Regions from separate parts of the Homo sapiens genome. Here region 1 is reported to be linked to region 2. Evidence: microRNA targets listed by miRTarBase, many of them from high-throughput screens and not tested one by one. Region 2 holds a microRNA gene; the other region holds the end of a gene's coding sequence. Distances are between the middles of the regions.

What was found. The annotated mature microRNA hsa-miR-1295b-3p reads AAUAGGCCACGGAUCUGGGCAA and lies in region 2 at 1,568-1,589, shown strand. An mRNA with a match to its seed (bases 2 to 7 or 8) in the 3' UTR can be bound and repressed. Matches are read on the target gene's strand: a 7mer-m8 pairs with bases 2 to 8, a 7mer-A1 pairs with bases 2 to 7 and ends in A, and an 8mer does both.
Region 1: the mRNA of KIAA1614 is a reported target of hsa-miR-1295b-3p. Seed matches in the 3' UTR shown: 7mer-A1 at 3,168-3,174.

What each region holds. Positions count from the first base shown.
Region 1 is chr1:180,945,150-180,949,149 of GRCh38, reverse strand. It overlaps KIAA1614, which reads right to left. Exons shown (of 9, transcript NM_020950.2): 9 at 1-3,847. The coding sequence ends at 3,562. Among named protein-coding and RNA genes, the nearest start is that of KIAA1614-AS1, 7.7 kb to the left of the region's middle.
Region 2 is chr1:171,100,210-171,104,889 of GRCh38, forward strand. It overlaps MIR1295B (microRNA 1295b), which reads left to right and starts at 1,530; the gene lies at 1,530-1,589. FMO3 (flavin containing dimethylaniline monoxygenase 3) reads left to right here. Exons shown (of 9, transcript NM_001002294.3): 3 at 3,576-3,764. MIR1295A (microRNA 1295a) reads right to left here and starts at 1,597; the gene lies at 1,519-1,597.

The DNA.
Region 1 (4,000 bases), 9.8 Mb from region 2:
ACTGTCTTCACTTCCTTTTCCTCGAATCAGGTTCTTAGCAGGGGCCCGAAAGGGCATCAGGTCTGCTCCTCAATCTCTGGCTTGAAACTAGTCACCACATCTTGGACTAGTGGGAAGTCCTCTCTCGGATCCCCCAGCCCCGTAGGAGCTTTGGGCAGCCCAGCCTGTGGCCCTGACAGAAGTCAGGCGTTTTAAAGCCTGCCTCTGAAGTGTGGGTTTGAAAGAGCACTGATCTTCACCGAAGTACCTGAAAGTCTGTGGCTCTGAATTTAGTAAATCCAATCTTTGTACACATTCCCCCTCCCTGGTCTGAGGTGTAGAATCCCTTTTGTTGCTTCTTGGCCAAGCCGAGCCTTTTCTGTGGGGCTGTCTTCCCTGACAGAGTACATCTGCCATCCTGACTGTACAAGGCGTTTTCCCTCAGCCCTGTCTTTTACCTCCTCTAGATGGACCTTTCACTGCTTGCCCTCCCTGTCTACGGGTTGGTGGCACGGGGAGGGGGCAGGTAAGAAGGGGCCCCTGGGGCAAACCCAGAGAAGTGTCTGATGTGCTGTGGGAGTTGCAGGTGGGGACTAATGATAAACCCTGAAAGAATGCTGCCAGAGCTAGGCCAGACACTGACGTCACGCCTGCCATTTTGGGGAGACTCGGGTAGGTTTCGCAACTGAAATTCGTGACACAAATATGACAGCCTGCTGTCATAGGCATTTATTGTCTGCTGGAAATGGCCTTTGTTGAGGATGTGTGATCTCTATGTTGTATCCAATTAGAAGCAGAAGGCAAAGCCTGCTGTTCTCACAGGCTCATATAGAGTCGGATGTGAAAGCCAGCAAGTTAATACCAGCATCCTGCCGGTTCAGTGCGGGGCGCAAGCCAGCCCTCCTCACAGCCCCTTGGAGCCTGGAAGAAGCGACCCTCTGCTGTTGGAGGATGGCCTGGGACACGGAGGCCCCAGCACTCGCCAGGCTTCATGTGCGTGGGGACCCCTGTGTGCCATCCAGCGCCCATGATGGCAGCAGGACCAGGGAGTGCCTGGGCACAACGGGGAGCTGGCACCAACTCAGGCGAGGGTGCCGGGGGCCCTGGGTCACTAGAGACCCCTGCCCATCAGAGCTCCCTGACGGGTGACAGGGAGGGGCTCCCACTGCCTACAAGGGAGCAAAAAGGGACTCTGGGGGAGGGTGGGCGGCAGAGTACAATGACCTGTTGTGTGTGCACTCACATCGACAGGTGAATGCGGATCACGCTGGTCCCTGTCTGGGGTTCTCTTCCCCAGACTTTCTCTTTCTGAAGGGGAGGGAAGAAAAATGCTAGGCCCTTTCCTGTGTGCCTTACCAAATGCTCCTTATGACTCTTCTAGGTAGGTTTTGTCATCCTCATTTCACAGATTAGGGAACTGAGTGAGGCTCAGTGGGGATGTCGCCTGCTCTAGATCACATAGCCAGCAGAGGTGCCGGAGCACAAACATGCTGCGTTGTCTGCCTCTGCCTTCACACCACCTGTCCGGGGGGCCTGTCCTGCTCCCCTAACGGGAGAGGAGGCTACGGGAAGGCCTGTGAGGAAGGACTTTTTATCCTCCTGAGGTCCAGAGTAGGCAGAGACCTGTCCTCTCTTCCTCTTACATGTCCAGCTCATCAGCAAATAGTCAAATCAACCAGAATCCAACCCCTGTCCCCTCTCCCCTCTCCCCATCTCCACAGCCGTTCCCAGTCCAGGCACCACTGTCTCTGTCCTGGACTGCTGAAATAGCTTCAACACAGGGCTCCCTGGCTCCACCCGTGTCCCACTGGGGTCTATTCTCATAGACATTAGAGAGTCTCAGTGCTCGCTCCGAGCCCTCTAGTGGCTCCCATCTCATTCGGCATGAAAGCCAAAGCCCCTTACAGTGGCACAACCCCATCTTTCCAAACTCTGCTCCTCCCAACCCGTTGCCTGCTCTGCAGTGTCCAGCCTGACCCTCACAGTTCTCACAGGCCAGGCTCGCCCCTCCACCAGGGCTCCGCACTTGCTGTTCAGTCTGCCGGAATGCTCTTCCCCAGACACCCATGGGGCCCCTTCCTCGCCCCATCCACGGCCCTGCTCAAGTGTCATCTTCTCAGAAAAGCCTCCCCACACTCCTGTCTATACCAGCACCTGCCACACCTGCTTTATCTGTCTGTTTCTCAGAACTTTCTTTTCACCATCTGACATACGTAGCACATTATACATAACAAGAGTACACATTTTATAGATACAATCTAACTGCTCACTGGGTAGTATATTCATGAGGATAGGGATTTGGTCTGTTCCATTTACTGCTGTATCCCCCGTATCTATAACACATAGTAGGTGCTTAGTATATATTTGCTGAAACAATGATGGAACAGACATGAGAACTCATGCTGTGGTCTGCAAATGTGGTAGCAGGCAGACTTTTTTCCAGGCTAAACAGCATTGAGCTAGGAGATCAAAGCACAGGACTCAACCCCCCATCGGCAGAGCCCGGCCGCAGCAGGCTTCTGTGTTCGTCTTTCTGTATCTGTCTCTCCCTTTCTCTCTCCTTCCTTCCCCTCCCCTCCTTCCCCACCCTCACATACGTGTCTTCCTTCCCTGATCCTCTGGGGAATGTCTTTTATGGGCCCTTGAGATGCATTCTGGACCACAGACCTTGGGCGTGGGCTTTTGCAAGTCACGTTGCCCTGAAAGACTCATGGATGGGGTGGAACTGAGAACTGGTCAGAGTGCAGAATGATGTCCAGGACTTCTCCCTGCCATTGCCTGGGTTGAATTGAGACCCAGAGCACACCCCAGTCAGAGGCCTGCAGCCAGGATTCATCTGAACATAATCATCGGGCACAGGCCTGAGGGAGGGACGGGATGCAGAGACAGACAGGCATGCTCCACGTGCCCAGACATACTCCACAGCCGGAGGAAAGGAACCGTTTCAACGCAGCCACATCAAAGGGACTGCTGAGAACCAGCAGGCACAGACAGTTTCCCTCTGGCTCTCCTCTGCAAAGATGGCCTTCAAAATTCTAATTTATTTATTTCTTTTTTTTTTTCCTTTGAGATGAAGTTTTGCTCTTGTTGCCCAGGCTGGAGTGCAATGGCGCAATCTCGGCTCACTGCAACCTCTACCTCCCGGGTTCAAGCAATTCTCCTGCCTCAGCCTCCCAAGTAGCTGGGATTATAGGCATGCGCCACCACGCCCAGCTAATTTTGTATTTTTAGTAGACATGGGTTTCACCATGTGGGCCAGACTGGTCTCGAACTCCTGACCTCAGGTGATCCAGGCGCCTCGGCCTCCCAAAGTTCTGGGATTACAGGCATGAGCCACTGCGCCCGGCCTAAGCTTCTAATTTCAAGATGTCATCAGACAGCAGGGGGACAGTGGAGTCAAACCTGCCAACTCTACCCCCTCCCGCACACTCCCCACCAACGCACTCTCAGCTGCAGTTGCCTAGGGCAAAGGCTCTGCAGGTGCAGACTCCTAGAGAGCCCTGGACAATTCAGAAAGAGCCCCTGAGGGGAGAAGCCTAGTCCTGTAGTCAGAGGCTTTCTGAATTCCCAGAGCTGCACGGCTCAGCCAAAGACCAGAAAAGCCTCTGACCACAGCCAGAAGGCCCTGCCTTGTTTGCTAAGGCCGCCCCAGCCATGGGGCTGAGGAAGAGGAGAGGGCATACCTGAGTCTGGGCGCCCATTCCCAGAGGCCACGCAGAAGCCGAAAGTGCCCCCTGGGGAGCGCTGCAGCTGCAGCTGGCTGGTGCCGTCTGGGAACACCTCCACCAGGCGGCCCACGGTGCGAGCCAGGCTGGGAGCACCCACGTCCTCCACACTGAGGGCACGCCGTGGTGAAGTCTTGGCCGGCCTGCGAGGGAACCAGAGACACAGTGAGGGCAAAAAGCATCAGGCACTGGGCACAGCTCTTCCCTGGCTTACAGATGACCGATGCCTCACAGACTTAAGAGCCTGGCATTGGAGGCTGGGGTTCTGCTGACTTCAGCCAGCAAAAAGAGCCTGC
Region 2 (4,680 bases):
ATTTGTCTTTTCTTGCTGCTCGAGGAAGACTTTAAAATTTGAACCTGGCAGCATAGGTTGATAAAACTGAACTGCAACATGTGCTACCCTTCAAGAAAAAGAAAGGATAGCCCAGAGGGTAGAGCCTCAGGCCCTGAGGGCAGAGGCCTGAGCCAAAGCCTTCAAGCCTGAAGGAATTTGTCCTACTGGATTTCAAAATTGCTTGGGATTAGTGATTCTTTTCTTTCCTCCTTTTTCCTCCCCGGTTAAATGGGAATGTCGATAACGGTTACCCATGCTTGTCCCACCATTGTATTTTGGAAGAAGATAACTTGTTTTCTAGTTTCACAGGTTCACAGATAGAAATTTTGCCTCATCCTGGTCCATATCCAGAGTCTCATTTATACCTGATTTAGATAATTTATATGATGATGAGATTTTGGACTTTTGAATTGAAAATATATAAATGAGAGTTGAGACTTGATTTCATGCTGCTATGGGTTGAGACTTTGAGGATGTTGGGATTGGGTTAATGTATTTTGCAGATGGGATGGATGTGAATCCTTGGGAACCAGAGGATGGCCTGTAATAGGCTGAACAATTTAACAATGCCCCTCCTCAAAGATATCACATCCAAATTCCTGGAACCTGTAAATGTTATCTTACTTACAAGAGAAAAGGGTATTTGCAAATATAATTAAGTTAAAAATCTTAAGATGGAGAGATTTTTCTGCATTATGTGGGTGAGCCCCAAACGCTATAATGAATGCATCGTTAAAAGAGAGAGGCAGAGGGAGATTTAACACAAAGAGAAGAGAGAAGGTGATGTGATGACCTCAACAGAAAGAGAGAAATTTGAAGATGCTATGCTCTATCTTTGATGATGGCCAGAGGAGCCATGAGTGAAGGCGTACAAGAGGGGTCTTGCCACTGAAAAAAATAAGAAATGCCAGCATCCACCAGAAGCCAGAAGCGGCAAGGAATGGATTCTCTCCTGGAGCCTCTGAAAATGAACATGGTACTGTCACACTTCGTTTTCAGCCTACTGATAGTGATTCCCGACTGCTGACTTCTAGAACTGTGAATCAATTGCTATTATTTTAAGCCATTAACTTTGTGGTAATTTATTACAGCAGCCACAAGAAACTAATACCTTTGGTTTTTCAGCGTTTCCTATTTTACTACTGTGAGGGGGCTTATAGATTGCAAATGATGGAGCAAACAGCAGTGTTTCTCAGATCACTAGAAGTCTGCAGCAATAGGCTTAGTATTCACATTATAAGATTGTTATAAAATTGTTCTAATTTTGTATTTGCCTTCCCTTTGGTTTCTAACATCATCATTTTACATTATCTTAACTTTTTTTAAATTTCAGAGAGATCCAAACATTGGTTAAAACTTAGCTAACACTAAGGGTGCATATAGTTGAAACTGTTGGAGCTGTTTACTACAGCACTTTCTATGCCCTTCTAGTTCTGACTTCTAACCCTGATCTAGAGCCACGATGATGTATTTCCCTCACCTTCTTTGGTCACAGAAGGAGGACATTTCACCCAGATCTGCGGCCTAATCACAGGCCACATTTCTGAATAGGCCACGGATCTGGGCAAAATGTCCTCTTTTCTCAGGAGCTCCCCAAACAATAAATCAGTAAATCATATGAATTTTTGCATGAAGTTTTATGAATAGTGGCTTTCTTCTGGGAATACCTCCCTTTTTTAACTTCCTCTGATTTTTTTCTGGACTATGTATCAATTTTTTTCTTTAATGTTTCTTCTCTCTTTATGCTGATTATCATCTCTTTAAACTTACCCAACTCACAGAAAGCTACAAATTTTTGCACTTCCCCATCCCACATGCCTATAGCAGAGTCAACAAACCATGTGAGCAGCAGAAAACTCATGTCCTATTTAAAGAACACGCTGCTTTCTGAAATGAACATGGCAACTAATCTGCCAATTAATTATTTGTCAATAATGAAACTGCAGCCACATTGGCTTTTGACGTGATTGTAATATTCCAATATTATACTAAAATTTCATGTTCTGGGAGCCCTGACAACTTTCAGTTAGATGAGCTCTAATTAGAAGTTTCTAGTGCTCAGTACTTTCCACTATGAACTAGCAACTACACATAGAGATCTACAATCTGATCTTTCATCATGAAACTTGAGATATAAGTACCTTGATGCTTCAACAGAGCTAAACCAAGGCTCCACCTCTTCCTAATCATGCTCCAACCAGTATTTTTTTTTAACTTAATGCCTTTTATTCATTCAACAGCTTGCTTTGCAGAGCTCACAGCTGTAACAGATGTGTCCTATGGTAAGCTCTTCCACAGTAACTGTAGCCTGTTGGTCATGAGCTTCCATTTGTTGAACTCTACATTGTGACTGACAAACTTGGCTGCACCTTAAAATTACCTGAAGAGCTTTTAAAACTTGCTGTCAATTAAATCAAATTCTCTGAGAGTGGGACCTAATGCTCAGTGTGTTTTTTAAAGCTCCCAGTTTATTTCAGTGTGTGGCTAAAGAACCACAACACAATATCCTAAACTTCTCATTACTGATCATTCTTTCTTCAATGTTCTTTTTCTTTATTCATCATCACTTAACATTTCCTCTAAGGCTTTATTAGCATAGTTCTATAATTCCTTAGAGTTAAAGAAAATTCAGATATTTTTACATCATTGAAAGCTAAAACTTTGTTACTTACATAAGTGCTTAAAAGGCATGCAATGCCCATAAATTCTGTGTTAGATTCAAAATAGTTAACCTTATTTTATACATTATAGAAATTCTAAGGTTAATTTTTTAAAAATTAGGTCTTAAAATGCTTACATTTACAAATCTGATCAATAGTTGCAACCTCTTGTTACTGTTTGCTTTTATAAATTGACCATTAGATGCTTGTGCTCATGAGTTGACACATTGAAATTATGCAAGGTTGAATTTTGAAAAATCTCTGTCACCATATTTAATGGTTCAAGGGAATGAAAGGATTCTAGTTACATAGGCCTAAAGGACATAATGAAATTTAAAATTTGTTTCCCTTAGAAAAGATTAAGATATATTTTCTTAAAAGATATTAAGAAAGGTATTCTTCCATATCCTAAGTTCCCTTAGTAAGTTTCCATGATTAGCATCAATTGTTGAAGTGAAGTTAATTTATGTGTGTCTTACCGAATTTACTGTGGATAAAGGATGACTCAAATAAGTATACACTTGGCCATCTGTTTTTGCAAGTTCTGCATCCACAGATTCAACCCACCATTGATTTAAAAAATCCAAAAATAAAAATAAAAAATCAAAATCAAAATCAAAAAACAATACACTACAACTATTCATTAAGCATTTACATTGCATTAGGTATTATAAGTAACCTAGAGATGATTTAAAGTATCTGTATATAGGTTATACGAAAATACTATATCATTTTATGTAAGAGACTTGAGCATTCGTAGATTTTGGTAACCACGGAGGTCCTGGAACCTTCCATAGATACCAAGGGATGACTGTAATTACTTGGAACCAGCCCTGACCATGATCAGTATACTCATTTACCAATTCGCTTCCATTTGATACTATACATTCACAGGACCATGCAGAGGAGGGCAGGGCTAGCATTTACAAATCAGTCTTTTCCAACTCTTCCAAAGAGATGATGTGTTTCCCAGACTTCCCATTTCCCGATGACTTCCCCAACTTTATGCACAACAGCAAGATCCAGGAATATATCATTGCATTTGCCAAAGAAAAGAACCTCCTGAAGTACATACAATTTAAGGTAAGATGTTATCAACAATTTAGCTCTTGTCATAATGCTGAAGAAGTCTATGTCTACTACTGGATTCTCATTTGTTCCTTTCAGTTTCCCTTTCTAATTTGTCAACATTTTTAACAGTGTGGCCTCTCTAACTCTAGGTTTAGAGAATTACCTTCTTCTCAAGGATACATAGAAAATTCACAAAATTTGACCACCTACAGTTCTTAGACTAAATCACTACTAATTTAGAAATCAATACCAAAGAAATAAATATAAAATACCTGTGAATTTGGAAATTAAAAACTCTTTTTATCTAAATAACATATAGGTCAAAGAAGAAATTTCAATGGGAATTTAAAAATATCTATAACTGAATGTTAATTTAGTCTATGTATCAATACTTGTGGGAAACATAGGAAGCTATATTTTCATGAAAATTATAAATGTAAATGTTTATATTAGAAAATGAAAAAGTTTAAAAATAAGGTAAGAAAGTTTAAAAAAATTAGTAAAAGAAAGACAGAATAAACTCAAAGAACATAGAATGAAGGGGATATAAAATAAATTTATAAAATGTAAAAAAGCATATGTACAAATTGAAAGTTAATTATTTGAAAGGACTAATAAAATAAACAACAGGAGCCAAGTGCAATGGCCCATCTTATAGTCCCAACACTTTGGGAGGACAAGGCAGGCAGATTGCTTGAGTCCAGGAGTTGGAAACTAGCCTGGGTGACATGGAGAAACCATGTCTCTACAAAAAATACAAAAATTAGCTGGATGTGGTGGCACATGCCTGTGGTCCCAGCTACTAGGGAGGTTGAGGTGGGAGGATTGCTTGAGCTCGGGAGGTAGAGGTTGCAGTGAGCTGAGATCACGCCACTGCACTCCAGCCTGGGCGACAGAGTGAGACCCTATCTCAAAAAATAAATAAATA